Regions from separate parts of the Homo sapiens genome. Here region 1 is linked to region 2. The links come from fine-mapping of genetic effects on gene expression. A gene starts in region 2. The other region holds a variant in brackets. All regions are shown on one strand. Distances are between the middles of the regions. Region 1 has its middle 37 kb from the start of SUCO. Region 2 holds the start of SUCO (SUN domain containing ossification factor).

Region 1 (16,162 bases), 40 kb before region 2:
GGATATTTGATCATGGCAAGTGGGAGAGACTTCAGAATATTTCAGTCTCAAGTGGGAATAACTTCAAAGCTATTCACCTTTCCCAGCAGTAGGCAAAAGAATGGTCAGGGAACATTTCAAAGTTAATGAAATCTCTTCTAGTCCAAAGTCCAAAGATCATATATCTACCTCTATAGCTCTTATACCTACTATATGGTCTGTCGCTTAGTAGATTCTCAACAAGTTTTTTTTTTGTTTTTTGAGACAGTTTCACTCTTGTCGCCCAGGCTGGAGTGCAATGGCGTGATCTTGGCTCACTACAACATCCACCTCCTGGATTCAAGCAATTCTTCTTCCTCAGCCTCCCAAGTAGCTGGGATTACAGGCACCCACAACCACACCTGGCTAATTTTTGTATTTTTAGTACAGACAGGGTTTCACAATGTTGGCCCGGCTGGTCTCAAACTCCTGACCTCAGGTGATCTGCCCATCTCAGCCTCCCGAAGTGTTGGGATTACAGGTGTGAGCCATTGCGCATAGCTAAATCATGGCCTCTTACCTTTTTTTTTTTAAGTGCCTTCAATTGTACCATTCACCAATTTCTGTGGTATAAATCTTCCAGCATGACCAATTTCAAGCTACCAACAGCTTAACAACCAACTCACAAAATTTTGGAAAAGTTAACAATCACTTTCATCACTTTCATAACCAGTAGGAATCAACTCCAGCACACCAGAGCTTGGCTCTCTGTATTCAAAAGCAAGTCAGTACTGAGTGGTTTCAATGCATTTAGCCCTCAAAGGGAAGTAGGGATACTCAGAGTTGGCTTGGGAACAGAAATTTGACAGTGTAATAAAGCTTCATGCTTAGAAAAGCATATAGGTGATGTCCTGTGGGAACTACCAAGGGCTGAAATAATTTTCTGCCTCTAACCTAGTATGAAAAATTGAAGAAGTACATGTAGACCCTTCCTCTGCATGCTGCACCTCTTCCTCTAAGCAAAGGAGAAAGAAACCTTAGCATGCATAAACCCTCTCCAACAGGGCTGAGGTTCTCCTGAACAAGGGAAAAACTCAAATCCAGGTTTGAATGTGCTCAAGTCACAGTTACCAATTTAAGATCTTTGTAATAGTGGAGATTAGATCAAAGAAGGTTATTTCTAATCATTGTACTGAAATGCTTATTTGTGATACACCAGGAATACTTTTTGTGTGTGTTAATAGAAAAACTAAAGTCTGTAAAATATTTTTAAAATATTAATTCTGAGCCAGTATGAGTGACCACAGCCCAAGGAAAAACACAAACCCAACAAGTTTGGTCCTGAGGTGGTTAAATTACAGATTGGTTTTATACATTTCAAGGAGGTAGTAGGAGTTACAGGCAAAAGCATAAATCGATACCTGGAAAGTATATATTGGTTCAGCCCGAAAAGGTGGGATATCTTGAAGCAAGGGCTTACAAGTCATAGGTGGATTCAGATATTCTATAATCTGCAATTAAAGGAACAAAAATTTGTCTAAAAGCTTGGAGTTAGCAGAAAGGAATTAAGTTATGAATGCTACGTCAGAGTTAGCCACAATATGATATGTTTGGCAACATTTATTGTTTGTAAGCATGACTTAGCCCTTGCCTTCTATGGCCTTAGTCTTGTTTGTAATTTGGTATCTTATTACCAGTTTGTTTTGTCAGTCTGATGATATTTATTTTAACATTAATGCTGGTCAGTTGTTGTACCTAAACTCCAAAAGGGAGAGAGTAGAACCAGGCACGTTGGATTCTCCCTTATACTCTCTCCCTTTTGGAATCTAGGCACAACAGTTTGGAGTTTAGGCACTCCCAGTTTTTAAGGTTTCTCTGGGGTCCCTTTGACCAAGAGGGGAGCTGCTCAGTTGGTGGGGAAGGGGGGTGGTTTAGGATTTTATTTTTAGTTTACATAAGTTTGGCAATAAGCATTGTTCACCAAGACAAGTAGACAGTTATTTCCATTCTCCCACAACTTACATCATTCACATAGTTTTTGATAAAAGTTTCTCCACTTCTCATGCTGCTAAGTTAATAGGGTTTCCTATACATGAATGCTTGAGATGAGTATGCTGTGATACGTTCCTTAGAGATACACATTTTCAGCCCAGTGTGACTCCTTTAAGCCGATACATCCTCTTCACAATACACTCTGGACAGATTCAGAGCCAGACACACGGGGTTCTGGTTATAGGTTGCAGGATTGAACCTGGGGCCCAGGTTACCCGTGAAGCACATATACTTCCTTCTCCAGGTCTGCCCTGTCCTGGAGTGGGGAGCCTTGCTGGGGGTACGAGATGATAGCCATGCCAGCAGGGTTCCTCTAAGGCTCATACTGACTCTACCACACAAACATCAAATAAAAGGCAGGTCTCAGCCTATTTGTCCATTTACACATTTAGTTCCACATCACTCACCACAGTCTACTTTTTGCATGTCACTTGGTCCCACTCTTGTTTTTCCTACTATTCACTTTTCTAATTGTCCCCTTTCTTCTTACCTAAGCTCATTCTGTGAAATCATTCTATTGTGTTTTCTTCTTTTCTCCTAGGTTGGCTCCTCATAGTTTACCATAGGAGTTAGCAGCATCTGAGAAGTCAAGAAGTCTGCATTTGTACCTTGGCTCCTTCACTTGCTGGCTATGTGACCTTGGGAAAGTAGCTTGACCTCTCTGAGCCTCAGTTTCTTAATCTGCAAAACAAGGTTGCAATGATTCCTTATCTTATGAGTGTTGAGGCAAAACTAAGAACATACCATATGTGCTGAGTACCCAGCAAATGTTTCTGTGGTAGGTACTTAAATATGTTAGCTCTTCATAGCATTACTTTTATCCTTGATACCACCATTGTCTTCAGTAGACGTGGTGTTTCTATGGCACAATGTTGTCTCAAGTGACATGGATAATGCTCACAACTCCAGCCCCAGCCCAGCTCTACTTCCAGAAATCTCCTTGGCCAAGGTTCTTGAACAGAGTGTTCATAAGTGCTTTACAGGTGAGGAGATGCTTATAAAACTCACGCCAAACCCACTTCCAAGCATAGAACTCTATAACACTCTGTTCCTTGAGATATCTTGCAAAACTGTCTTGAATAAGAAAATCCTTCATGACTTTTTGATTCTGCTTGTCATGTACTTTGTTATTGCTGACACAAAAATATGTCTAGACATTTTTTTCTTCAATTTACATTTTATAAATACTGACTTCTTGGCCTTTAAAATGAATAATGGCCATTGAAACAATCATGGTAATAAAATGATTTTATTATTTGTTTTCCCTCTAAAAAGCTGAACCAGAGCTATGCAAGATGGCCTCTTGTACCTTCTATTGAAGGTCAGTCTTGAGTCCTACTTGAAAGCCCTTCTCCTTTTCACTTTCCTCCATTTGTGCTGTGGAAGTAGCCAAGCTCCTGAAATAGGACAGATGCCACCTGGATTTGTGAGATCTGAATACCCTTGAAGGCTGCAACCAAACTCATCTGTCAGAAACAGAGGCTTGAGATTACCTCCAGGGTAAAAAATGCCTTTGAATTTTCCAAGATACATAAAAAAGAGACTCCATTTATGAAGTTACATGTGGTTCTGTGTGTCAGGGGAATAAATCATGCTTTATAGGTAATATGACAGAGGGCTTTAGAGGCATTTGAGAAATCTGGAGAAGGCAGGAGATAGCCAGGAATAAGGAACAAGAAGAGCACGTGGGGTTTTCCAAAGGGCAATCTGAAAGGCCATTGTCCAGTCACCGCTGTTAGAACCTTCAGCAGTCTCTGGCAGCACCATCACTGTTCCATTCCACTCCATCCCCATCCTGTCTTCTCCCTTCCTTCCTAAACTCCTTCTCCAACTCTTGTTCCTGCTTCCCAATCACCCTGCAGTTCTATTCCTGTCTTTGACTTCAAATGGGTGGGTGGGAGGACTACATTTGGCAAAAGGATTCCTAAAAGCTTTGCCCAGAGGTCTAAATTCATTTTCTCTCAGATATTTGTCTTGTGTCATGTTGCAAGCTGCCTGTTGCCATAAGGGCTGCCTAGAACTAGCCCAACATTACCACTGTCAAGTTATAAGTCCTCAGCCCAACCCTTGCACAGTGAATTTGTATTTTGTTCTAGAACCTTAAGGATGATAGCCTGCAAATTTAAAGAAGGAGATTCAAGAGTTGGAAGGTTGCCAGAAGTAATTTTGTCCAATGCCAGAAGCCGAGGACCACTTATAATATTCTTCACAGAGAGTTGTCTGGCCTTTGACCAAATGCCAGGTAATAAAGATTGTCTCTTCAGAAGAAAAAGAAATGTTTAGGAAAAAGAGGTGGGAAGGAGGTGAAATTTTCATAATATAACTTTTTGTTCCTTTTGAATATCATTGTGTTGTATATATCACTTATTTAAGAAAGTAAATTAAATATTTTGAAAATGCCTTCAGTGTCAGGAAGCTCATTACCCCCAAAAGCAGACTGTTGCATTTCAGATAGCTGGAATTGACAGAAAGTTGTTTCTTGGCTGGGTGGGGTACAGCTCACGTCTGTAATCCCAGCACTTTGGGAGGTCAAGGTGGGTGAATCACCTGAGGTCAGGAGTTTGAGACCAGCCTGGCCAACATGGCAAAACCCCATCTCTACTAAAAATATAAAAATTAGCCAGGCGTGGTTGTGGGCACCTGTAATCCCACCTACTTGGGAGGCTGAGGCAGGAGAATTGCTTGAACCTGGGAGGTGGAGGTTGCAATGAGCTGAGATTGCACCATTGCACTCTAGCCTGGGTGACAAGAACAAAACTCCATCTCAAATAAATAAATAAATAAATAAAATAAAGAAAGTTGTTTCTCATGCCTAGGTGAAATCAACCTCTTTATGCTTCCACTCTTCTACTTCTCCCCTGTAGTAATAATACAGAGCCAGCCACTCCCCTCCAGTAACAACAAATTTTCAAATATTTGAAGACAACCAATCTATCTTCCTTTAGTTATTTCTTCTTGAATGCTAGAAAGATCACCCACTTTGCTATGCCAGATCTCTCAGCTAGTTTTAATGTTTGTGGGAAAAAAAAGAACTTGTCCCAGGGATGAGATTTCCTTGTACTGTCTTGCTGAATCTGGCCTCCATTGCTCACTGAAGGGTGATGCTTGGGTAGAGCCAAATTTTATTCCAAAATAAGGGTGTAGCTCTGGTCTGGCTTAACTTTGTAGGCTTAGAGTGTTTGGGACATGGGGGTAAGAGGGGATTCTCCCTGATGGTGGACACTTGAGCTTCCTAGCATCCTCAGGAAAAATGTATGAGCTTTCATAATAGATTACAACTCATGTTTTTGTTGTAGCCTGTTTCTGTACCATACAGGTTTTGCACAAACGTTCATTTAGAAGTTTATAAAGTCAGTAAAATCAGAACACTAAATTTAGTCTTAGATTGGAAAGGCAATAGACGGGACTGAAGCTCTGTCCCCAATGCCTTTCTTGATTTTTATATAATTTCAATAAGCATTGTCTCTCCTCCTCCTTTCACCCCAAGTTCCTATAACTGTGCTAAAATACAAAGGAAGCACCAAAAGCCTATATTCATGTTAAGAAGACTACGTGCACACAAAAGCAACAAAGGCAGAATCTGAAACATGTTGAACTATGGACAGACAGCAATCAGTCACCAAGGACAGCACTAAAATCATGGGGTCCTCTGCACCAGGTGTACGCATAGGTACTGTAGGGGCCAGAGATTCACTAAAAAAATCAACTCACAAAAGGCAGATTAATTGGAGAAAAGGCAGGTAAACTTATTTAACATGTATACTCAGGAGCCTTCAGACTGAAGACTGAAAGATAAAGGGGAAATGGTTCATTTTTATGCTTAGTTCAACAAAGTATGGAGAGCTGTGTAGAAATATGATTGGACAAAATAGGTATGATCTAATGCTAGCAGACTGAGTGGGGAAAACCAGCAAGGCCTCTCTGCCTGATTCTTCTTAGCCTCTGAGCATGCACTCCTTCCTTCTGAGTTTGGGGCAGAGCCCTCTCTGCAATCGGGGGTCTTATGACCTACAGTCAAACAAGGTAAGTCAGACAATTTCTTTATGGACAGTTTTTACGCAGAAAGAGGAAAAGTTAGAGTAATATTTTTAGTTTTTATGGCTAGCTTTAGGGAAAAAGCCCTCTGGTGTCCCTGACCCACCTTGGTGAAGAGGGATTCTGGTTTCTATGATTAGTCTCAGGGGAGAAAGCAGGCTGGGAGACAAGAGGGCAGCAGCAGGTCAAAGAAAACCTTTGGCTCCTGAGGCTGTTTCTGAGGCCTTCATTCTGGGGTATTGTTTTCTGAGCCCCAACTGTATCCTACCCAGGGCAAACTAATAGGCCTTCCAGACCCTGAACATTATCTTCATTGCCTGTCTCCTACCAAAAAGGGATCCTACTGATCTATAAATAGATGCCTTTTGAGGTATCCGTCCAGTTTGTAAACTTAAAATCCTAAGTTCTCCACCAACTGAACCCTCTCTTGGCCATGGGGACCCCAGAGAAATCTTAAAAACTTAGTTCCTGTCCATGACAGCAAGAAAGGTTGGACCTACCTTGTTATGCTCCCTCCCTTTTGGAGTTTAGGCACAACTGACCAGCATTACTGTTAAAACAGAGATCATAAGGCTAACAAAACAAGCTGGCAATAAGATACCAAAGTATACACAAGACTAAGGTCATAGAAGACAAGGGTTAAGTCATGCCTACAGACTATCAATCTGGCTACAGAGCTTCCTAATCTTAACTTAACACATTCCTTTTTATTGACTTCAAGTTGTAGATGGAACCTTACTCCTTTGACCAATTATAAATTAAAGCATCTCTAAATTCACCTGTAACCTATAAGCACCCCCCTTCCCACTTCAAGATATCTTGCCTTTTCAGATGGAACTAATGTATCTCTTCCACGTATTGATGTATGTCTTTCCTTTAACTCCTGCCTCCCTGAAATATATAAAACCAAAATGTAATCTGACTGCCTTGGGACCACTTACTCAAGGCTTCTTGGCTTTGTGTTTCTCCCTGGGCAGTCATCACTCATTTTGACTCAGAATAAACCCCTTTAAAATATTTTACATAATTTGGTTCTTCATTAACAAGTTGCACCCATATACTTTTTCCTCCTGGTTCCCTTATGACCAAGGATATAATTTGGGACTAACTGATGAGAGAAGAAAAGTCTGCAATGATGAGGACTGAGCAGTGGGTACAGAGAAGTATGTCTGCCAGCAGAATCCAAGCCACATCTTTAAGGCTCAGATTTAGGCCAGAATATAACTCACCCCTTGGAGGTGGCGAGTCCTATAACACCAGGCTTAGCCAGTCTATGGCATTGCTAATGCCCTCATCAGTATGGTAAAGGCTTGCTGGAAAGCTGGTCTTCCAGAGCATCTGCTCTGTCATCAGAATTGTTACCATGGGAGGAACTAGGTATCTAGAAAGGGATCAAGTGGATTATTGAGGCCTTCTGTGTAAGCCTGTGCTCTTCTGTCTCTGCTTAGAC[G/A]CACCTCTCATCTATCCATCACTCTGGACCAATTCACACTGGGCAGTCACCTCCCATTTGTTCACTCAATCCATTTACCCCTAGTTTAAGCTGGAACATGTCAAACATTTGTCACCCCAGGTTTTACCACTAACTAAGCAGAATGCCTCACAGTTTCTGCTTTTACTGTTCTCTGTGAGTGTGGGAATCAGGTCTTTGAGGAATGGAGGGTCCACAGAACTTAGCAGGATAGCAAAGGCTGGGTGGGAGTAAGGGAGGAGACCACCCCTCATATTGTCTTATGCCCAATTTCTGCCTCCAGAGAAAGAAAAAGTAAAAACTAAAAGACACAAATGAAATCCACAAGCAGACAGCCCGGCGCCACACCCTGGGCCTGGTAGTTAAAGATTGACCCCTGACCTAATCGGTTATGTTATCTATAGATTACAGACATTGTACAGAAAAGCACTGTGAAAATCCCTATCCTGTTTTGTTCTGATCTAATTACTGGTGCATGCAGCCCCCAGTCACATACCCCCTCCTTGCTCAATCGATCACCACCCTCTCACACGCACCCCCTTAGAGTTGTGAGCCCTTAAAAGGGACAGGAATTGCTCACTCAGGGAGCTCAGCTCTTGAGACAGGAGTCTTGTCGATGCCCCCAGCCAAATAAACCCCTTCCTTCTTCAACTTGGTGTCTGAGGAGTTTTGTCTGTGGCTTGTCCTGCTACAGAACAGTATGCACAAAATAGTTATCAGTGGAGATTTAGTGGTTGCCTATTATCTGCCTGGCACTGTGCTTGGCATTGGGAAATCAAATGAATAAGAAGCTTACAACTTCTTGTTGAATAGAAGAAGCAGACAACTAAACAAGCCATCATGAAATAATATGGTAAGAACAGGGGCTATTAGAGCATCTGGGATCAGCACCTAATCCAGCCCCGGTGAGAGATAAGGTTGGGAAAGGGAATCAAAGAACCATCTGGGGGAGGTGACATCCCAAGGGCATGGAAGATATTAGTTAATCCCAGGACATGGCAGGGTGTAGGAACAGACAGGAGGTTCAGCAGCCAGCATAACTGGTTAGAATTGAATGATGACTCTCTGCATATCAGAATGTTTTACTTATAGCTAGAAAGTTCTAAAGATTTAAACAGCAGTTTTTCACTCCTCTGATGGTATTTAATGATGGTGATTAAATACCAGTTAGTATTCACATTCAACCTAGGTTTACTTTAGAAAGCCTTCTGTCCTGATCTGGAAAAGAAAGCTTAAAATGTGTCAAGGTCAGAAAAAGCAATGCCCGGGTATCTATCCCCTACTCGCTAGCTCTGCTAGAAAAACAAAGGCCATCAGCAAGTGTCAACCATGCTGGAATGTGCTGGCGCAGCTCTGGGGCTCCGGGCATTTTCTCTCCTCTCCTTCTTTCCTCTTTTGGTCTAGTGAGCTTGCAAGCTGCCTGCATTCTTGTGAGCTGCCCCTGTCAGGTCTCATACAGGACTCCCTGCTTAACCAGGCAAACACACACGATTGCTTTCAAGCAGACTTCCTCCTGGATGCCTCCCCAATTCCCACTGCTCCACCCACACATGCCCTGGGGCCCTTAGAACTGTGGCAGCTCTCTGGAGACAGAAAGTCTGCAAGGGAGAAACCCTTCTCTTGTGGGAGAACTTAAATGGGGGAGAGGATATGAGATGTGATTGCTAGATCCTGTCCATAGGACTCAGATGGAAGTACAATGGTTCATCCTCTTAGAAAAATCCTTAAAGTTTTCAAAAGAAAGGAGAGGACCTTCCAATCTTTGCTTCCGTAGTAAGTGTAAATAACATTCTTACAAGCTCAAATTAAAATTTAGCATGGATTATATCATTTAATCTACACAATAATAAAGTGTTTACTATTATTATCCCTCGATGTGCCTCAATTCGTTCATCTGTAAATTGGGGATAATAGCACCTACCTCTTAGTCTTATAGGAATCAAAAAATTAATAGTAAATACATTGGAACTATGCCTAGTGCATAGTAAGCAGTCAAAAAATATCAATATGTGTTTTTGTGAGGAATCTGGAGCACAGAGAGGTTAAATAATTTGGCCAGGATCACACAGCTTGTAAAATAAGGCCAAGATTCAAACCCCGGTAGTTTGGCCCCAGAGCCTGCTCTCCTAATGGCAGCGTTATTTGCTGTGCTGCTCTGCTGCACAAAACAATTAAAGAGTAACAAGAAACCAGTGACTTTGGGTGGCTAGAGAGAAGCTGGGGAACCCCTTGAGTTTGTGTAAATGAGTGGTTCTCAAAATGTGCCCCCCTGGCAGCATCCTCCCCATTTCCTTAGGAACTTGTTATAAATGCAACTTCTCAGGCTACATCCCAGATCTACTGAATCTCCAACTCTGGGGTGAGACCCAGGATACTATGTTTTAAAGCGTTCTCCAGGGGATTTAGAGGCACACTGATATCCCAGAAGCACTGGAGTCGACTTTTAACTGTTATATCTACTACGCACCCAGCCTCCATAGCAGAACATGGCTCTCAAGTTGCTTCCACTGCTTTATGATATTCTTCAACCCATCCCTCACCCAAGCTGGTGATAGAGGTTTTGAAAGGGCTTGGTACAGGGCAATCTTGCAGCAGAGGGCTGCAAATGTGAATTATTAGAAATGTGGGCAGTCTGGAAATGTGAATTAACTTTTGGCCTCATGGCCACATCATATGGAGGCCTCCGTTTTCTGAGATGCTAAGTCACAGATGGAGAAAACAGATTTGGTACCTGGGTTTTTGGGGTGGTTATTGATTTTTTTCACCAAATTCCCTGGAAATATAATTTAAGGGCCAGAGAAGCTAAAAGGAAAGCGACCAAATGAATCCTGCCTCCTGGGGAGTGTTGTCTGTGTGTTGTGGGGGTGGGCAGCAGTATGGCCAAGGCAACTGTAGCTTTATAAACTGGGTGAGGTGAGGTGAGATAGCTACAATGTCAGAGAACAATTCTGAGTTTTATAAAGACACAAAAGTACTAAAATTTTCTCAAGATCAAGGAAGGGGAAGGGTTGGCCCATGAAAGTTGCTAAACAACTTTCTTTAGCAACTTGATATTCCACGCTGCTTCCGCCAGGCTCAGCCTGCAGCTGCAACCTTCAGAGAGCTGCAAGGAGTATCATTGTTATTACCTAATACTGCCATTTATTGAGTACAGCCCCTGTGCCAGGCACTATTCATTGTGCATGTGCTCATTGTTTTAATTCTCTTAGAACTTGGAGTAGGTATCATTATTTTCATCCTTCTATTACAGATGGATTTAAGGAAATTAAAGCACATAAAACTTAAGTAGGCCAGGCACGGTGGCTCATGCCTGTAATCCCAGCACATTGGGAGGCCGAGGCGGGCAGATCACCTGAGGTCAGGAGTTCGAGACCAGCCTAGCCAACATGGTGAAACCCCATCTCTACTAAAAATAAAAAAATTAGCCGGGCTTGGTGGCAGGTGCCTGTAATCCCAGCTACTCCGGAGGCTGAGACAGGAGAATCACTTGAACCCAGGAGGCAGATGTTACAGTGAGCCGAGATCGCGCCATTGCACTCCAGCCTGGGTGACAGAGTGAGACTCTGTCTCAAAAAAAAAAAAAAAGTTAAGTAATTTGCCAAAAAACAAACAGCTACCAAGTGGTGGAGCTGGTTGGAACCCAGGTATTGTTTGTATAGATCAGTCCTCACCATGTAATTCTGCCTCTTCAGCAGAGTTTGTGTCTACTGCAGGAGGTGAGGAAGTGAGGGAGAGTGGGAGGAGAATGGGGTGAGAAACCTAAGTCCCTCTGTTGATCCTGGGGCTAGACTGACTCTCCAGCGCTGCCTCAGCCAAACACTGCCACATCAGTCTTCTGGACTGGAGTTTGACACTTTCGCCTTACTCATCAGTCAGGTGACAATGACACATGCAAGCCTTTGCCAGGGAGCATCCTGAGACAGGTATCAAAGTCTAGCCCTCCAGCACTGTGTTATATCAACCCTGACTGAGACTAGAGCTCAAGCAGGCACCCAGTTCTTGCAGAGCTGCCCTGGCTTCAGGGAGTTTGGCTGAAGCCCCAGCTGCCTCTCTTCTCAATGGGAAATTGCCACCAAGCGTATTCTGGCTGGAGGGAGGGGCATTTCTCTTCATGACTGCCACTTCAGCTGAGGAGGCTGGGTTGACAGGTATAACCAGGTTTTCCCCATCTGCCTACCCTTTTCCTAGCAGGCAGTCAGAGGCTTCTTACTGAGTCTTTCCTTCTGGGTATTTTACAAAGTTGGGGGGTGGGGACCTTTCTGGTTTTCTCTGGGGGAAGAAAATTAAAAGCCAACAGGCCTCTCCCTAGGAAATTGCAGGCATATGCCAAGGTTCTCAGAAAATTGCCACCTCACCTCTCCTGACAAATGACCTCTCCTGACAAGTAGCCAATAGGCTTTCAAAACAGCAGTACCACTGACTAACAGCAAATGTTCTCTTTTTATGGAACACAAGGTGTTCACAGGTGAGAGCAGATCTCCTTCCTTCTGCAGACGTGGGGCTATGGAGAGGAAGTGAGGACTCTCATACTCATTTTACCAAACAGGAAAATGGAATTACCCCTTCACAGAGGGGCTGATTCATTTATATGACTCTGCTAATGCCTGAAGGAACTGGCAGCTCGAGATGGGCACAGGACCCAGACCCATGATCACTGTGAATGCTTTCTGAACAATGGCAATACCAACCATGGATCAACTCCATCACTGGGCACTGCTCAGACGTGTAACTCTTGGCCTCTGAGCAATATGTGCTTTGTTTCCTACTTTGAGGCCAATTTTAAACTTGAATGTGTGAAGCAAAAATTATTTTTTCCCTATTGGACAGTCTTTAAGAACTGGTAAAAATACAAGGGGCCCTTGTTACCTGAACCAAGATCTGAGGAAATGCTCCTTCCCCGAGAGGACTCTGGAACGAACTGTCCCTTTTAGCGGGGCTGATGCAGCCCCTGTAAAGCCCTTAGTAAGGACTTAAATCATTCTGATCAATTAGCTTAAAATCTACCAGTTCTTAAACACTTTCTCCCCCACTTCCTCAGGGAAGCCTTCCTCAGTCCCCAGTTCTAGGGGAATCCTTGCTTGCCTTTAATTTTTGAGAGCTTTATTGTCACCTGGGTATTAAAGAGCTTCTGTTTGAGAAGCAGGCTGTCACTTCTGTCTAGGTCAGGCTTTTCTTCACAGCACGTTGTGAGCCAAAAATCCCTGAGCCTATGCTGGAGGGACCCCAGGTAACCCCTGACACTGCTGCTGTATTTGTTCAAGCAAATCTTTACTGAGAGCCTTTTATAAGTCAAACTTGATGTAGAGCTAGGAGATACACTAGTGATTCAAACAATTATTCCTGCCCTCACAGTGCCTACATTCTAGGAAATATAAATAACATAATTTTAATATGGTGTATTAGGAAGTGATTATTGCTATGGAGAAAAGCAAGGCAGGGATGAAGTAGCTAAGAAGACTGATGGTGGGGTCTGAGGGGATCCAAATCAGGTGTGGGTCACGGGGTAGGATTATCTTTTGGCCTGAATTATTACTGCTCTCCTGGCCCCTAGTCCCTGTGCTTTTACCAAGAGTGCCTCCTTTTGTTTATTAAATAAGAGATGGGGGTCTCACTATGTTGCCCAGGCTGGTCTCAAACTCCTGGCCTCCAGCCATGCTCCTGCCTTGGCCTCCCAAAATGCTGCCTCACAGCCTGGGCCACTGTGCCTGGCCCCAATAGTACCTCTTAATGCCTGCCTCTCTTCCTTCGATTCTTCTATTCCTCTCACTTTCTCCACCACCAAAAATTGTGCCTTCAATGCCATCCCCCAAATTCTCCTGATCTTTAAGGACCAGCTCAAGCTACAGCCTTTCCCCAACTCCTCTGACCGCTCCCTTCTCTGAGCTCCATGAAAAGCATTAAGCCACACAAGTGATATTTGATCTTGTCTTCCATTGTTTCTTCTATATGCTTCTTCTATATCTTTCTCAACTGATTAAAAGCTGTGACAAATGGAGGCTAAGATCCCAGCATATTGCTTTGAATACAGGAGGTGTTTAGTAATCATACCAGGTGGCCTCAGTCAGCTCTCAGTGCAATTTGGTAAAAGCTGACTCCTCATTCCATTTTAGTAAGCTACAGCTTTTTCTACTCAAGCCCTGAACCACTCCTCCAATATCTCTCAGCAGAAACTTTACTAGCATCCATCTTGGATGAATTTGCTCAACTTTCCTTCTCAAAACCTCAGAATTAAATCTCTATTTTCACCATCTTTCTCCTGTTTAAGAGAGAATTATTACTAATTCTTGCCCAAGACTAACTGCTTTATTTACACTTTCCCACCATAGCCACTCATATGCTCTGGGATCTTATTGTCTTTATTACCCAGAAATTCTTATTCATCTCTTAGGGTGCTGGCTTCTTCTTAGTATCCAAGTGAGTTGAAATCTTTCTCATTAAAAATAAGAAAAAGTCTTGATACGTCTTCCTCAATGGTTTGGCTACTACAAAATTATTATAAAAGGAAAGGTAAATGAATTAAAACCTGGACTCTTGAACTAGATTGCCTGTAGTTTAATTACCAGTTCTGTTGTTGCTATGTGGCTTTGGGAAATTTACTTAACCACTCTATGCCTCAGTTTCCTCATCTGTAAAATGGCGATAATAATAATAACTGTTTCATAGGGTAGTGATGAGGATGGAATTAATTTTCATAAACTACTTAGAACAGTGCCTGGCATACTATAAGTGATATGTGTTTGATATTTGACATAAATAATTATTAAGCCTTATATATTATTCTTTCTTTCATTTCCTTGGTCCTATTTCTTTCTTCCCAAAGCTACTATCCAATCTTCTGTTTCCTTTCGTCACCAATTTTTTCAAAAGGACAGCCTGCAGTGCAAACTTTCCACTAACTGTTTCCATTTTCTCATGTCCCTTTCACTCCTCAACCCACTAGAATATTGAAAGTTCCCAATGGCCTCTTAAGCTTCTAATCCAAAATTTCATTTCCTTTCATTTGACATCTAGTATCCAACTTGGAATTTCTTCCTTTGCTTTTCTTGCCATTTCAGCTTCTCCTCAGCCAGCTCCTTTCCTTTCCCAAGAGACTCCATCCCAAGGGGTCTCTTGGGCTTCTTCTCATACTGCATTCTCTTCCATTGGTGTTATTCACACTCCTGCCTTCACTTACTGCCTACCTTCCATTGACTTTCACACCTACTAGGACTGACATTTTTCCCTGAGCACCAGCCCCTAAGCTTGACCAGTTATACAGATAAATGCCATATCGATACTCTTCTGATAGATTAGGGTTCAGCTATCTTCTAGATTCTAAATCTAGAAGATTTCGAACAGGTAAATCTTCTCCCTGTCATGTATTGCTTCAAATCTCTGTTTTGGCACCCAGTCGCAAACACCAGAAACCTTAGGGCCTTTGTGGTTCTGCATCTGGATGTGCCTTTGCATTTCACAAATCAGTTTTCACATCCCTTAGCTCATTTACTCCTCACAATGACCCTAAGAGCACTATTTGATTACGTGATTTTGCAAGGCTTAATTTGAATAAGTATTTTTTTTCCCAGAATGACAAAATAAACACATTTTCTAATTCTTTTAAGAAAGAGTGAAATAACTCCTTTCTACAGAGGAAGAAAATAAGTTTTAGAGGTAACAAATTTTTCTAAGAAGTTGTAAGGGTCAAATGAAATAGTACGTGTTGTGAAACTTCATCTACCTTAAAACATCAGGTAAATGCAAAGTTTTCTTGATTATTAACATAATGCTAAATTATTGGTGACACAGCTAATTTGGTAAATGTCACAAGAAGAGTATTAAGTGTACAGAAATACAGAGGTGAGGGAAATCGGTTTAGTTAGGGATGATAAGGATCTTGGGAGAAGAGTAGGATTTTAACAGATGGACAGCATGATAGAGGACCAGCTTCTCCATGTCTCATTCTGGTCTACCACTTTTATATCTGTCCTTAATACAAAGCTGACTTGAGTGATCCTTTCTCAGCACTTCTAGGTAATGGCTGGAGGTTTCCTCTAAATGCAATAGACAAATTTAAGGCACCTTTTATAAGAACATTAGGACACTAACTCAAAGGTCACTTCTTCTGAGGGAATAAAAAAACCATCCAACCTGCCTGCAGCAGCTCATACTATTCCACCCTCCATGTGGACAAGGAACACATGGGAACAAGGAACATAGGGAGCAAGAGTGTGTGCAGGACAATGAACTGCAGAAGCGTCATTGACACATGGACATAGCCAGAGTACGTGTTTCCAAATCATGAAACCAGAACAAAAACAAATCCTATAAAGGATAGTGTGATGACAGTTAGCTCAGGCTCAGGACCCTGAAGTGTGCTGTTTGGGAATCACTTTGCATACTGAAGCCTGTGTAATGTAGAAGGGGTCAAATAGAAATCTGGAGGATATTTTGGGGTAAGTCCATCGATAGTAACTGAAAAGCTAGCTTTGAGGAGATAACTTTTATTCTATTAATGTGATTACTTTATTGCTCATAAATTCAAGTTGAGATTTAGTTACATTGGAATAAAATGGGCTCTTGCAAACTTATTGAGTTACTGTAAACCAAGGTATTATCTAACATCAGGAAGAAGAAGGTAGTTCAGACAACCTCTCCACTTTGCAGCAGCTA
Region 2 (16,162 bases):
GCTTTGTAATATTTTAATAACTGTATTTCCCTACAATTAGTTTCCTTGGTAATCTATGTGTTTTATTTTATACCTTTATAAACATTCTGAAAAGGGTTTTACCAGACTACCAAAAGGGTTCAGTTCAGAAGATTAAGACTCCCTGCTAGAACGCTAAACTTTTCCTGGAGCAAATTTCTGTCTCAGCATCTTTAATACAAAAAAGGCTCAATAAATATTTACTGAACACTTTATTTCTCCAGGTTACTTAGGGTAACTAGAACCTAGGAAAATCTATTCAGACATAAGTCAAATAATGTTATGCTAAAAAGCTAATTTGGTAATTTATAGAGAAAGAAATAGTTGGCTAGGTGCTCTAGACTAGTCAACTGCATAAAACGTTCTCATCCTAAGGGCTTGCTACTTCTAGGAATTTAAATTATAAGGCAAATTGTAATTTAAGGTGATTAGACAAAGAAATAAGTAAAAAGTAAAAAATTATTTCTTGGGCCTCTGTAATAAAAAAAGTCACTGTGTGATATATATCAATAAAACACATGACCTCTCTGCAATAAGGAATTTATTCACTGCTTGGGGAGACAAATGACTATTAAATAAAAACAGTGTCATGAGGGCAGGCACAGGTGTTTCAGGTCATAATAAACAGTGTGGTCTGGTGAGAAGGTTGAGTTATGAAAGAAAACAGTGGGAAATAAAGCTTGAACTACATCAACTGGGTTTGATTATGGAAAGCTTTGAATGCCAGGCCAAGGAGGCAGGACTTTATTTCACAAATACGTCAGACCTGTAGGAGATTTTTGCATCAAAGAAAGGACATGATGAAGATAATGTTTTAGGAAGCTTCATCTGAGAGCGTTATACAGGAGGTACTAAAGGACGCATCAGTTACAATCCCCAACATGCTGCTTCAGTTGCTACTTTCTCTCCCTATTTTGAATCTTGTACTTGTAAATTCTTGCTAGATACTTCCACCAGAACCTCAATACTGTGCTTCCAAAACCATACTAGTCTCTTAAATTGTAAATCTGCAACTCCTGACTTTCCTACTCATATAATGGCACATACGTTCTTAGAAATTGGACCATCTTTGATGTCTCCTTCTCTGTCACCCACATGTAATCATTCCCTTCCTCTAGTTGATTCCATTATGAGCCTATTCAATTCATGTATCTTCAAAATAAACATATGTTAACGCAGTGATAGAAGACTGAATTTGGGATCACAAAGTAGAATTTTTAAAAAGGGAAATCTTACCTTTTGTTATTTGCAGTAAAAACAGAACCGTGCATGCCAACATTGCACTCTGTGATCTTCCCGCCCTCAGATCTTCCCGCCCTCAAGAGACTGAGTTCTCAGACTGTACTAATAAAGCAATCTATGTCTTCTTCTGATTTCTACCTTTACCTCCTGAAGTGGCCAAATTACCAGTGCTCTGTTAAGGTAGATTAGGCTAAGTAGTTAAGGCTCTTTTCAGGTAGGTAGTAACTAAATAAAGAAGGTATATGCTATTCTACACACATATTTATATATATAAAGAAGATGATCGGGGGGACAGTTTTAAAAGTTCTGTTTATACTTTTTATGCGGTTAAAATGTTAAGTGCTGATTGCCACATTCACCATTTTTCCATCTTATTTAGTCTCTTTTATTGTCCATTTGTCTGTTTTCCATTCCCCAACCTTTCTTTGACTGATTTCCAGGAAACTTCTGTTTTAACTGACTTTTACTCTGGAAGCATCTAAATGTCATTGGTCTCTAAGATCCTTTGGAGACATATAGGATCTCAGCATTTTGTAATATTGAAAGGAGCAGGTAATTTTTCAACTAAATCAAAATACATAAAAGCTTGCTCATGAAATACCACCATCTTAGACAACACAGTTCTCTTGGGTGTCTTAAATATGATTTGTATATGAGATAAAGAACAAACGAGATAGCCAGAAGGGGTTGGTTCCTTTTCTAAGGTCTGCTTGTTCTCTTTTACCATAAGCAAACAGAGTATCTGATCTTTATCAAGGCAGGGACTTGAGCTGCCCAGAGTTTCTGGTTTAGTCACCCTTTTAGGAATGGGAGAACTCATGTTCATTGTGCAGTTTAGGCCCTAGTGACTTGCTGAATAATCCAAGGATCTGCAGGGCAAACGAGTTATCCTGTGTGTGGTCAGTGCTTTATAGATTTTATTGAATTGGGAGATTCTGTTACAGCAGGGTTTCTCAACCTTGGCACTTTTGACTTTTTGGCCAAATAATTTTTGTTGTGGAGGGCTTTCTTGTGCACCGTAGGATGTGAAACAGCATCCCTGGCCTCTACTCACTAGATGCCAGTAGTACTTCTCCAATGTGACAAGCAAAAAATGTGTTCACACAATGCCAATCTCACCCTGGGGGGAAGTCTGCCCCAGGTTGAGAATTACTGTATTATAGTTAAGGGGTGGTTGATAGTGGTTACTTAGCCTAAGCCTTAAAAGATTATATATATAATTAAATATTATATATGAAAGATTATACATTATACATGCTCTTTTTCTATATTCTTTCTTGCCATTTTTGGCATATGTTATACTTTTAAGTATGGTGACATTCATCTATACTAGTTTTATTTTATATAACTATTACTCACTTTCTTATACTTGTCTATTGAGTTGTAAGAAAATTTTCTCTGTTCTTTTTCTCATTATATTTAACAGATATGTGGAAAAATGTCTACCAGTTCTTTAAAGGTCAGCTCTATGGAACTTCTATTTATTTCATCTGAAGTCTTAGAATAGGAAAGAATCAACACAAATATAGAAAGTCACGTGAAGAAGCTAATTTATGGGGAAAATGAGTTCAATTTTGTGCAGGTAAAATTGGAAGTGATAGAATAATATGTCCAGCAACTACTTGAAAAGAGGATGGGATATAGGTTTAGGAGTCAACAGTATAGTTGAAAATTAAAATTGCTCAAGAGAAAAATGGAAAAAGCTCGGAGTAGTGAAGGATTAAACCTTAACATGAAACCATGGAAATGAAGCTGCAAAAAGAGAAAAGAACATTTATAGATTGAAATAGTAAAAGCTAATAATTGGATGATAATTAGGTGAATGGAAAGCCTACCACGGGGGTATTAATAAAGCTCCAACTGCAGGAGAAGGAAGGAAGGAAGGGAGGAAGGCAGGCAGGCAGTCAAGGAAGGAATGAAAGAGAAAGAAAAAAGTAAAATTATTTGTACTTGCATGTTTCAAAAAATCATTGCAGGGACTTGGTGGAAAATAAGTGGATGGGTTTGTGAGTTTGGGATGAGAGGGTTAGGAGATGTAACTTGATAACTTCCTAGATTTGAGATAAGCACGTATTCTAATATAACTTCTTTGGCTGTGATGCACTGAGGATCAGCTGAGGGATACCTCAGCTGTTTCCTATCCTGAATAAAAGTTCCTGGAGTAAGAGGAAAAGAGTGTCCAACATGGTAAAGAATGTCAATTTATCCCTACCCTTTCATTGCCCCTACTTTCTTTTAAACTTGCATATTAATCATTTGATACTGTTTTTGGGTGAGATAAATACTTGCTTCCCGCAATAGGTGACAGATGAAAGGATTTTATTGTCATATACTAAGAGTGGCATCAGCAGATAAGTGGAACTGTACCTAATTACTGCCAGAAAAGGCAGTTCAGGGTGAACTCCTTTAAAACAAAAATTATCACCCTTTGTATAATTTCTCTAACATCAAATTGACTTATATCCAAGAATCACAGAGCGGATCAAATCATTCAGTTCTTTGGGACTATAATTAACATCCAATTCAACTTAGAAGGTTCATAAGGAAATTCCGCGGCTCAAAATTAGGCGTTAGGTGGGCATTTTACTGAGGGTTTTTTCCCTACGGCCACATGAACAATAAGTAACCCGTCCTTTAAACATTTTTCACACTAAACATTATGCCATGTTCCAAGGCACAGACCATTGCAGCCTCCGTCCCCTCAGCGGCGTAAACACTTGGAATGGGCATGCTGCCCCGTTACTTAGTATTGAGAAGTGGTCACTTTTTGCTCTTCTTAGGTGAGTGTAAGCGACTGCCTTCCCCACTTTAGGTGAACCCCAGGACTTGGAGCGTCTGTGGGTGCTCCTCTAATGGGGACAACTCCTCCCTTCCGACTCCATCGCAGAGAACCCAAAGTTCGAAACCAACAGAACGAAAAGCAACGAAGCACACTTAAAGTGAGGAACCCGGCAAGCGGCGAAATTCTTGCTGAAGAGAAGAAAAAGCGAAAGGTTTTCCGCTGCAACCAATCAGATGAGAGGATTCTTGGCACGCCCCTTTCTATCTACCAATCAACATCTAGCTCAATGGGGCAGTCCATTGCCACAGGGAAAGGGCTTGGTGCAGCTTCCCTCACAACACACACGTCATTCTAGGCCATTCCACGAACTGTGCTCAAAAGAGGAAAACAGTGCAACAGTTCCAAAGCTGATCAGTCTCGTGGTGAGCAGCGAAACTATAGACTTCTCTAACAAAACCATGGATTCTAGGAGGGACTGGGAAAGAGAAAAACGAATTCTGGAAGGCAAACTACAACTCCCAAAGGCCCTTGCGCGGACTCAGCGCGCGAGGGACGAAGGGCGGTCCACTGTAAGGGGAAATGCTGAGGATCACTGGGCTCCTCCCGGCTTTCTGAACGCAAGCCAGCAAGTGGGCGGGACCTGGGGCGGGCGGAGCGGCGAGAGCATCTGCTCCTGCGCTTTGTGGTCTCCTGCCTCCGGCTTCTCCGCCTGCGACGTCGAAGGGGGCGTGGCCTGCGCAGAGGCTGGTGGGGGTGCGGGCGCCGCGGGACTTGGGTGACGCGTCCCTTTCCAGCTCAGCGGTGTGTGAGGTGTCGCGGCCCCGCCGGCGATTGGCTGTTGAGAGGCGAGTACGCGGCGGCCGTTGGTCGCTGGCCTCACGGAGCAAGGCCCCCGGCGGGCGGGGAGGATATGGGGCGGCAGTGGCGGCTGCAGGAGGCGGGCGTGGACGAGCCGGTGGCTGCAGCGGCGGCGGTCCCCGGAGTCCTGTGAAGCGCCCCTGTCCGCGCCTCTGTGGGGCCCTCAGAGAGGGCTGCCAGGACGCGAGCCACTGAGGAGCCGCTCAGCCAGCGCCATAGCCCTTAGGACTATCGGTCACATTCTCGCGCTCCTGCTCCGGCTCCTCCATCTTGGCCTCGGCAGTGGCGGCTGCCGGGAGGATGTGCCGCCTTCTGGCAGGGGGAAGAAGGAGGAGAAGATGAAGAAGCACCGGCGGGCCTTGGCCCTGGTCTCCTGCCTCTTTCTGTGCTCTCTGGTCTGGTGAGTAGCCGCGACGACAAGGGAGTTCCCGTGAGGGGAGTAAATGGGAGGGAGCAGCCCAGGTCACACCCCCTGGTCATTTTGGCTTTTAGGGTCCGGGTTTCCAAGGCCCCCGTGGAAGGGACAAACCGATTACTTCTCGACTCTCCATCTGACTGGTCTGGTAGTGCTCTGTGCGGAGATTTTCATGGTGTATTTTGGAATTTACAGAGACTCAGTGGGAGAGAGAGAGGTGCCAAGGTAGAGGGAACCACCAAGTGCCTTTGTACTCAGTTCCTCTACCCCTTGGAGACGGTGCAGGGTTTGGGGTGGGTGTTCAGATTGATGGTAAGTAAGTTGCTCCGATTTGCCGCCAGTCTTTGCGTTCTTAGTGTGGTAAGGGGATAAAGCACGTCGGATGTGATGCGTTCCGGACGTGCGATTTTAAAACGTGAGTGGTCATGAAGGTAAGAGTAATGTATAAGCAGTAGTTCTCCTGGACATTTCTCGCACAGCGTTTGATCCCAAGTACACTCGGGCCGCTGTTTTTGGAAACTTGGGGGGCGTGTGTGTATGTGTGTTATGAAGCACTTTTTCAATTGGTTTGGTGGAGAGGGTGTCTTAGATGTAGTGTGTGTAGTAGTTTTTGGTAATGCCCCTTAGTGACGGGAAGGTAAATGCTGTATTTTCAAGGCGGGAAGAGTGCTTTGTCCCTAAAGCACTCCTTAAGTTTTACGGAGTTTCTGTTAATCCCAGGCACTTCTGGAGTTTTTTGAGGAGCAGAGAAAGCTTGTAAGTCGAGGGACTGCTGTCACCGTACTTGGAAAAGCCATTCTTTCCTCCCAGGGAATTTCTTCAAAGATGTGTGACAATTGATGACTGAAAAGATGCTTCTTCAGTCTAGGCGATTTGCTGTTTGTTATATTAAAATAGAAATTAAGTTTCCTGTTTTGCTTATTTCTGCAAAGCACCAACACTATTTTCATTTTTATGGATGCCTTATGGATTCCAGAAGCACTGAAATTGTAGAGTTGTTGCTCACATAAAATAATACATAAACAAGGGGAAGAGAAAACACTCGCCTGGCTGAGGGATTTTTATTGGAAGAATGATAGAAGTTTTTGAGAACAAAAACAATTGACTTATTACCTTTCATTCTGAATCCTTTTAATACCCGTCTCCTGTTTTTAATAAAATCCTCCCCTTTCTACTTACTGTGTTGGGTACGGAGAAGTGCCTGTAAGAGATAAATCCACTCACCTCATTTTAAATTTAAATTTGTAGATACTGAAGCTTGTATTCATTTCCATCTCTTTCTGGGGCTGCCTAGTTATATTTGTAGACTGTGTATTTTCTTTCCTCTTTCTTCTTGGTCTTGCCCATCTTTAAACCATGTTATTCATCATCAAAAGTTTCTGAAATGGCTAATAAGGAAAAGGTGAACACTTTCATTCAAGTTTAAAAACACACCAGTATCTCTGGCTTTTTTTAATTTTTTAATTGGATGGTGTAAACGAAATCAAGCAATAGAATGTGATTCTTACAATCATTTGTAAATTTAAGTTAACTCTGCTTCTATTTCTTTTGGGAATTTCTGGCTATCTTTTGATTAAGCTAACCCTCAGTATGTTTTCTCACCTTCAATCATTAGCTCTAGTGAAGAGCTAATGAATTTCCCTGTTAGGGAACAAATCGGTTGGCCTGGTATTGAAAGTAGTAGTAATAAACTTCTGTCAAGTTTTTTAACTCCTAGTGAGGAAAATGGATGTGGAGAGTTTAAGAGTGTGAACATTTTAAGAAACTTTAGCTTAAGAAACTATTGGGTTAGTATATTTTGAGATTTGTTTAGACTGCCAAATTTAGAGACATTTTAATTATTCTTTAGCAAAACGATTAAAAGGCATTAAAATAGGACATTAAGGCTTAAAGGGTTTTTTAAAGGGTGATGATGATGAATGAGATTGGGGAAGAGGAGTGGTACCTGGTGCTGATTGGCAAAGGGTATGTTTTTTCTTTGAAGCCTCTGCTTTTGTGCCAAGTTGGAATTAATGGCACTTAATGGATTTCTAACTTTTGCTGCAATCTGGTGTGGTATTTCTTTTCCCAACAACCTCATTCCCTTTAACAGAAATGGCTACCAACAAGTCCTAGGGTTAGATAAAACGTTTGCAAGAGTTGATGAGTGCCTTTTAGTAGCCACTTTTGTCTCTTTTGTTATTCACAAATTGTCTCAAAATTTTGTGATCCGTTTCTGTTTTGTACATTGAGTGCTGTATGTCTGTTCTACAGTATTCTAGTTTCTGAGGTTTCCCCTCTCATGCTACCAATATTACTGTGTTATGTTTACTATCATAATTTTGTAGATCTTGATTATGTCTCCCCTCTGCTTTTGTCTTGTAGCCTTGAGTACTAACCTTAGATTATGTTTACAGAAAAACCATTTCATCTATGTCATTATTAATTTTTGTTGCTGTTTTTTCCTTTTGCATAGTTTATAATTTTTGATCAAGTAGTATAGAGTATTCTAGGCATAAATGCACTATAGCTGCAGCACAGAGCAATGATAGCTAATATTTGCTGACAGCTGTGTGTCAGACACATGATGTTTACTTGACAATAACACCTTTAATCTTTATAAGAACCCTATAAGATAGGTATTATTATTAACTTCCTTTTGCATTTTACATGTGAGGAAGTAGAGAGGTTAACTTGGCTAAGTTTAAGCAGCTGTTAAGCTTCGGAGCTTAAATTTGAACCTAGGCAGCACAGGCTCCTGAGTACTTTATAGGTCAGAGGCCTGTATTTTATATATGTGGCTCCATCATTTACTAGATATGTGTTCTTTGACTTGTTATGTAACTTCTTTGAACCTTAGTTGTTATATCCTCAGAATGGGGAAATTGATCCATTCATACTTCACAGGGTTGTTAGGAGGATGAAATAATACAAATGACAGATCTTTGTAACACAGTAACAGCGTATTATGTAAATATTTCATCATAACATTATTCAACCACATTTTGTTCTCATACCTACTGTGCCAGATGTTTTTATGAGCACCGAAAATCCAAGATAGAGGGTCACCAGCTTGTCTTGGTTTTAACACTGGAAGTCGCATAACCTAGGAATTCCCTGCATTAGTTTCTTATGCCTGCTGTAGCAAATTGACACAAATTTAGTGGCTTGAACAACACACATTTATTACCTTACAATTCTGTGGATGAGAAGTCCAAGATATGTCTCACAGGGCTAAATAAAGTTAAGATGTCAACTGGGCTCGTTCTTTTTGGAGGCTCTGAGGGGAGAATCTTTTTCTAGAGGCCACCTGTATTCTGTGGCCCCTTCCTCACATCAGCACTCCAACCCTTTTTTCAGTCCTTATGTCTACTAATGACTGGTCCTCCTGCCTCTTCCTCTTATAAGGACTATTGTGATTACATTGGGTCCAGCCAGACATTCCAGGATAATCTCCCTATCTCATAATCCTTAATTTAATCACATCTGCAAAATCTCTTTTACTATGTAAGGTAACATATTTAGGGATTAGGATGCAGACATCTTTGAGGGGGGCGCATTATTCAGCCTATACCCTATACCATACTCCCTCAGTCCTGGGCAAACTGGGAAAGCTGCATCACCCTAAAGAGGAAAAAAACATAATTAGTGGATATTCTGAGTGTGTCCCTTAATTAGTAAAACCTTGTGCATCCACCTTAATTGTCTATAAGTTATGTACATGTGCCAATATAGTAATAGTATATTAGTGTATGTAATTAATGCAAGTTAGATATTTAAGAAAAATGAGAAAAAAATAATAATTTCTGTTAACGGTACCTTTTGTTCTCATTAAAATAATAATTTTTAGTGAGAGCTATGTGATTGACCTACTAGATTATTTTATGTCATAGTATAGAAGAGGAATAGCTTCAACTACTTAGGAGTCAGCCCTGTCATTTTCTTGTTGGCTGTGCTTGCATTATTAAATTCTTTGCAGTAATTTTTTTAAAAGCTGCTTCCCGATGTTGTGAGGGTCAATTCAGTTAAAACTGAATAATTCCTAAGTCTACCTAACTGGGGAAACATAAACCACAGTGAATCATGGTGTGCTGTAAGTAAAACCCATTGTTTGTGGGACTTCCACTCTTTCCCTGGGTTTCTGTATGAATCCTTACATTAATCTTAGTAAAACTTATTTTTTAAAACTAAACAAATCTATTCTTCCTTCACCCCAAAGGATCATCTTGGAGAAGCTTATATTTAGACTTTCGGGAAGAGCTTGACATTTAAACAAGTCTCATACATTTGGCAAATATAACAGGTACTTACAAAGGTTTTTAGGAACAGCAAAGGAAGAATTCATATCCTACTTGTGGTTCTGTCACTAACTGTATGTCTTTGGACAAGTTACTTCTGTGAACCTCAGCTCTCATCCATAAAATGGTCTGCAGGATGGATAGTTCACAATGAGCGAATTTTGTTGTAGGCAGAGAGAACACTTACCCAGTTATCTAGAGCGTGAGTGTATGTGAGGAGAGATGGGAAGGGAGGCTAGAGCTAGGTTTTGAAAGGATTTGATTATCATGCAGATGAATTCTAATTCTAACCACCTGACAGAGGATGAGTAAGTGAAGTGGTTTAAACTGGAGAACAGGAGCATGAGGTCACATGGATCTTTTAATTAGATTGCTGTGGAGGGTAAAGTGGAATGTAGGGGACGTACTTTGGAGGCACGAGGTCCTAAGTCGTGGTCCCACTAGAAGAGAGTTGATATCTAAATCAAGATGTTGGCCTTTTTGTCCTTAGTAGTAATTTTTCTGAGTATGTCAGACCAGTTTTTATCAGTTTAAGAGGTTTATTTCCTGGTTTGTGATTACATTTCTGTACCCTTTTGCTTTTTCTCTCATGATTGCTGGTCTATTAATATACATAAGTGAGCAGAAAAAAATTTAAAAACTAGAACAATATATAAGCTGTTTTTTCTTTTTTGAGGTGATGAATAGAGCATATTGGAAACATATCGATAAAACATTTTGAAAATTCCCCAGGAAATCTGGAGGAATTTTTTTGCTTGTTTCTGCTTCTGTCTCTAAACTTTCAAGGTACGGAATCTATTTCTTTTCTGAATAATATTTGAAATAAATAAAATAATAAAACAATCCCACTTCTCCAAATCATTTGATGCCTTTTTTTTCTTTCCTTGAATAAACCAATGAAAGATGACCTTTACAAAAATGATTTTTTTAGTGGAACTTAATGTGAAAGACTGAGGAAAAAAAGTTTATCTTTGCTCTAGGATATATATTCTGAAGAAAGCACCTGGTATTTTTATTTATAAGAGGTGTCGGGTCATACAGTGTCAGATCCCTTCAGACAAGTTAGATGAAGCCACTTAATAGGAAAAGGTCTGTGAAAGAAGGTGTGTGACATCTTTGCATAACACTTGAACACTGTGTCCAATAAAAGACGGCAAATGACGTGTTTCATGTTGGTCCTTTATGTTATTAAACATTTGAGGATATACTGGAATGGAAGCAGGCAGTAGGGTTGACAGGCAATGGAAAAAATAAAAGGTATCAGCTCTTTTGAGTATTGGTTATTTCATTTTTCGTTTGTTCATGAACTTGTACATCACTCTTTCACTTTTCTCAACAGTCTGAATGGAGAAAAGAATCAATATGTATAATTAATATTCTTATGCTTATAATGAAAGGGAAACTTATAAAAATTTAAGTGCTTTATTATTCTCAAGTCATCTTCAAATAGAAACACCTGTATGTACGTGATGCTTTTGTTTAGTAGTTTATACATAACTGGAAAGAGATGAAATCTCTTGAAACTTATCTACATGTTTTAGATTATACTTTAGTGCCAGTTGTATGTTATGTTTTTCAAGGCCATATTTTAGACTAATTTAAAAGTCAAATTGTACATGTCACAAGGGAATAGGAAATTGCTTTTGAATATTTGCAGTATAAGAGTGTTAATCCTTTGGGATGAATTTGTTTAATAAATGCAAGTTTTTTTGAAAGAAGATTTGGTTTTAGGACTTTATAATTAATTGCTAGTTAAAATTATTTTATATTTTACATGAAAGTGACACCTGGCTGTATCAGAAAGTATTCTGTAACATTAATACGGTTCATAGGTACTAAGCTAATTTTGTATTATTATGTAGCGTTTGTAATCTACTGGAGAAAAAACATGTAAAGGCTAAGAACAGTGCCTCACTCGTAGTAAGCACTACTGTATGAGTTATTCATTGACTCTAGCTACTTTGGTAATTTGTTGAGTAGAAATAAGATGGCCTAGGTTTCAGAGTTAAAAATGGGAATTTATAAATCCACTTAAATATTATTTGATTATTCACAATGTATTTGGTGTGATGAAGGATACAGAAGAATTGTGAGACTTGAGCTCTGTATATAAGCTGCTTGTTACAATACAGATAGTGGTGTAGTGTGAAAGGCATAAAACTATGTCAGAGCTTGGTTGTAGTTCTTTCTTTTCATTGTTAATATGAACATTTATTGAGTGATTATTTCTCTTCTAAGTACTAAATACTATTCAGTGTAATATGCATTAAATTATTTTATTCTCTGTATAGATGTTTTAAGGCAGACACTCCATTTTAAAGATGAAGAAAGGTGGGCACAAAGAAGTTAAGTTCTTAACAGCTTGCCCAAGTTCTTACAGCCAGGAAGCAACAGAGCCAGAACTAAGAAGGCCAGGTTCTAAGCCTGTGTTCTCTTAACCGGTATGCTGTGCTGCCAGTTGGCTGGTAGATGGTCTTGGGCAAGTTTCTTCACTTTTTCTAGTTAATAATTTTATCTGGCAAAGTGTCAGTTTTTTTCATCTGAAAATGTGGGTGCCTGTATTAGCCTAGGAAGGAATGGACATTGGAATTGTTCATGAAACTTTTAAAAGAAATACGCATACCTAGGATTCTTACCTTGTAGATTTTGTCAGTAAGTTTGTGATACTCTTTTATGCATTCAAGTCTGTATTACTGTATTAGGTGAACTCAGTTTATTTTTTATATGTCTAACATTCTAAGATACTTGATTTGAATGTTAATAAACAACACATAAAACTGAACTGCATAGTAAGTGCTTAAGAGGAGAAAATGAGGGCTAGAGTTCTCAAGGAAGGCTTGACTTGGGTTTAAGGGAAATGTGTGGTTTATAAACTCTGCTTCTGTGCAAACAGGAGCTTCATGAGCTGAAATAAGATGTACTGGTGTTGATAACATGAATAATGGCTATTTCTTTGTGTGTGCATGTGTATGTCTGTCTGCCTGCTTGCAGTGGGTAGATGGCACTTAATTGTCAAGGAGAAAGAGAGTTATGAATGGAAGAGATAATCTAGTTGATATGGGTAAGAGTGGTAGTAAACAGAAAAGCCTGAGGAGAAAGAGAGAGATTTCAGAGATTGTGGTAGATTTTGCAAACCAGTCCAAAGAATTAGATAATAAAGATTCAGCAAGAAAAGTGGTGTTGTGAGAACATTATTTTGACATAATTGTGCTAGATTTGTTTTTAGAGGAAGGAGACTTAGAGGGGTGAATACAATTGGCTTTCCACATCCACAGATTCAACCAACCTCAGGTTGAAAATATATTTTAAAAACAATAAAAATAACAATACAACAATAAAAATACAAATAAAAACAATGTTGTATAACAGCTATTTACATAGCATTTACATAGTGTTAGGTTTTAAATCACCTCTAGATATTATATGGGAGGATATGCATAGATGTTTTAAATCACCTCTAGATATTTTAAATCACCTCTAGATACTTATATGGAAGGATATGCATAGATGTTTTAAATCATCTCTAGATATTTTAAATCACCTCTAGATATTTATATGGGAGGATATGCATAGGTGATATGCAAATGCCATTTTATGTAAGAGACTGGAGCATTCTCAGATTTTGGTATCTTCGGATCCTGGATCCAACCCCTTCTGGATCCCAAGGGATGACCGGGCTAAAAAGCCCTTGGAGTAATTGAGGCTTGTCATAAGAAGGACTTCATCTTGGCAGTAGAAATAAAGAACAGGGTACAATAAATAGAGATTTTTGAGGAGGTAAATGATTTAATTTTGTGAAAGGTTGGCAAGCTGGCAGTAGTGCAGTGCAGTGCAGCAGATAACAGCATTAGGCTAGGATTCTAAATAACTGGATTTTAGTTTGCCTCTAACCAAACTCTGTTCAACATCCCCTTTCTGTTGTCCATCTCAATGCAAAGAGATATTTACTTAGGCTTCAGTGTGCTGTATCCTATACAGGATTCTGGTGGACAAAACAAAGTAACTGCTTTCTTGGAGCACACTGTCACTGAGAGTACATTCTAGGGCCTAAAATTATGAATCTGTGAAATAAAGTTCAATGAGAAAAGAAATGTTAAGCATTTTTTGTTTGTTTTCTGTTTGTTTGCTTGTTTGTTTTAACTTGGGCAACTAGAAGAATTGGTGGTGGTCAAAAAGAAGTGGAAGAGTTGGCAAAGGGCTTGGAAGGGGAAGGAGCTGTTAGTTGGAGGTGAATGGAATATCCAAGTGGAGACATTTTATGGGCACTTAAAAATGCAGACTTGAATGCAGATAAAATTTGGCCTGGAGTGCCAGGCACGGTGGCTTATGCCTGTAATCCCAGCACTTTGGGAGGTCGAGGCAGGCGGATCACCTGAGGTCAGGAGTTCGAGACCAGCCTGACCAACATGGAGAAACCCCGTCTCTACTAAAAAAAATAGAAAATTAGCCGGGCATGGTAGCGCATGCCTGTAATCCCACCTACTTGGGAGGCTGAGGCAGGAGAATCACTTGAACCTAGGAGACGGAGGTTGCGGTGAACCAAGATCGTGCCATTGCACTCCAGCCTGGTCAACAAGAGCGAAACTCCGTCTCAAAAAAAAAGAAAAAAAGTTGGCTGGAGTTATCCTCGTAAAGCAGAGGTCCCCAGCCCCTGGGCTGCGGACCAGTACTGCTCCGTGGTCTGTTAGGACCCTGACCTCACAACAGGAGGTGAACAGCAGGTGAGTGAGCATTACTGCCTGAGCTCCACCTCCTGTCAGATTAGCAGCAGAATTAGATTCTCATAGGAGCATGAACCCTACTATGAACCACACACGCGAGGGATCTAGGTTGTGTACTCCTTATGAGAATCTAATGGCCCCCCACCCCATCCATGGCAAAGTAGTCTTCCATGAAACTGGTCTCTGGTGCCAAAAGGTTGGGGACCGCTGTCATAGAGGGAATCATTTTTGAAAGAGAACATTGGACTTTTGAAACAGAATAAAGAAAGGTGCCAAGCATAGTAAAGCTCTGAAAGAAAGGAGGAAACTGGAAAGGATGGATGGAAAGAGATTTAAGGAAGTCATTTAAGTGGTCAACAATATAAAATGTCTTAGATAAGTTTGGAGAGCTTGAAAACTGAGAAACTTTTCAAAAGAGGGAAGTGATTGATAGCTTTTGGGAGTGGAGAATAATAGAAGATATTTGGAGAGCTGGTAGGCATGAATTCCACACATTTGTTTGGTAGCCAGGAGATGTAGAAGAGTACATAAAAAAAAAAAAGTTAACATGTAGAGTAGCTTCATACTTGTATGCTGCAACCCATTTTACACAGTGCCACTGGATTTGTCTTACATGCAGCTTTGATTATGTCAGTCCCCTGATGAAATATCTTTCAAAGGCTCCTTGAAGGATAAAACTTTAAACCTTGATAATTTTTAAATGCCTGCAGTCTGACCCACACTTACTGTTGTAGCTTTATTTTCTGCTTTTCCTAATAGAGACTTTGTTTGAGCATGACTGATCTGTTGGCCTGGTAGTAATTTATTTGAGGACTATTTTTGTAGTCTCTAATTGAAAATTAAGGTAACAAAACTACTGTCACTTGTGTTTTAGAGGCTAAATACACTGTACCCAATTTCTGAAAATATATTATTATCAAGTATAGGGCATGATTATTTCCAGCATCTTAGAGGACAAATTGTATTGGCTGAATTTCTAATGGTAGGTTATAATGGTAGGATATAAAAACAGAACATATCACATTTGTTTACTAAGTGCTTCTCTATGTTGGATCAATGAAATTATGGGCCAGTTTAGTGAAACAATTTTCTAATAGAATTTGATATGTGGAATATTAAGCTAAGAAAATTTAAGACCCAATCCTACATCAGAGTGAAGTTAAAAGTCAGAACTACTGAAATGCAAAGGTTTAATTAGAAACAGGCACTAGAACATAGAACTTTCTCAGCTAAGCTGTACAATTGCACGTGATTTGACTATGGACTGTTGATGCAGCCAAATAGAATAAAAACTGCAAGGAGAAAGAGGCCCAGTATGCTCTTACCTATTAGCAGATAGACCAAGCAGAAGAGAAGCAACCTTAAAAGAGCTCCAGACTGATACGTGGTTTAGAAGAATATCTGTCTTTTAATAAAACATTGTGATGGAGAGAAACTAGGTTGCTTAAGCAAAGGCACTAGAGGCCTGGTGATCTTTTGGTCTTGTTTTATTACCAGTGTTTGACCAAAATGGCTTCCACATTATTCACCCATTTCCCACAAGTTTCTCAATACTTACAGGATTTCAGTAAATTTTTTCAGATATCCAGGAAGTAATATTCAAAAACTACAATTTTCACTGATAACTTTAACCATACTGCGCTAATTGAGTGGCTGGCACTATATTTCTGTACAAGGGATTAACTTTGAATTTATGTTTAAGAAGCAATTCTTTGTTGCCTAGTTTAGTTATTTCTTTTACCACAAAGTGTTTTCTCATTCTTCTTTTTAAAGCTCTGAAAAAGCTTTTCTAATTCATAGTTCAAAGTAGGAGCTCAATAGATCATCATGCTGGCAACAGGGCAGTGTA

The links.
Region 1: its variant is fine-mapped to the expression of SUCO in esophagus mucosa (GTEx, PIP above 0.99).

Annotation. Positions count from the first base shown.
Region 1 is chr1:172,488,458-172,504,619 of GRCh38, forward strand. No RefSeq gene overlaps it. Among named protein-coding and RNA genes, the nearest start is that of SUCO, 37 kb to the right of the region's middle. RefSeq lists enhancers at 8,509-9,009, 9,010-9,510, 11,172-11,466. The variant G/A (reference allele first, on the strand shown) is at 7,496.
Region 2 is chr1:172,528,198-172,544,359 of GRCh38, forward strand. It overlaps SUCO (SUN domain containing ossification factor), which reads left to right and starts at 4,953. Exons shown (of 24, transcript NM_014283.5): 1 at 4,953-5,300. The coding sequence starts at 5,239. RefSeq lists enhancers at 4,152-4,261, 4,322-4,571, 5,182-5,341 and a silencer at 4,892-5,061.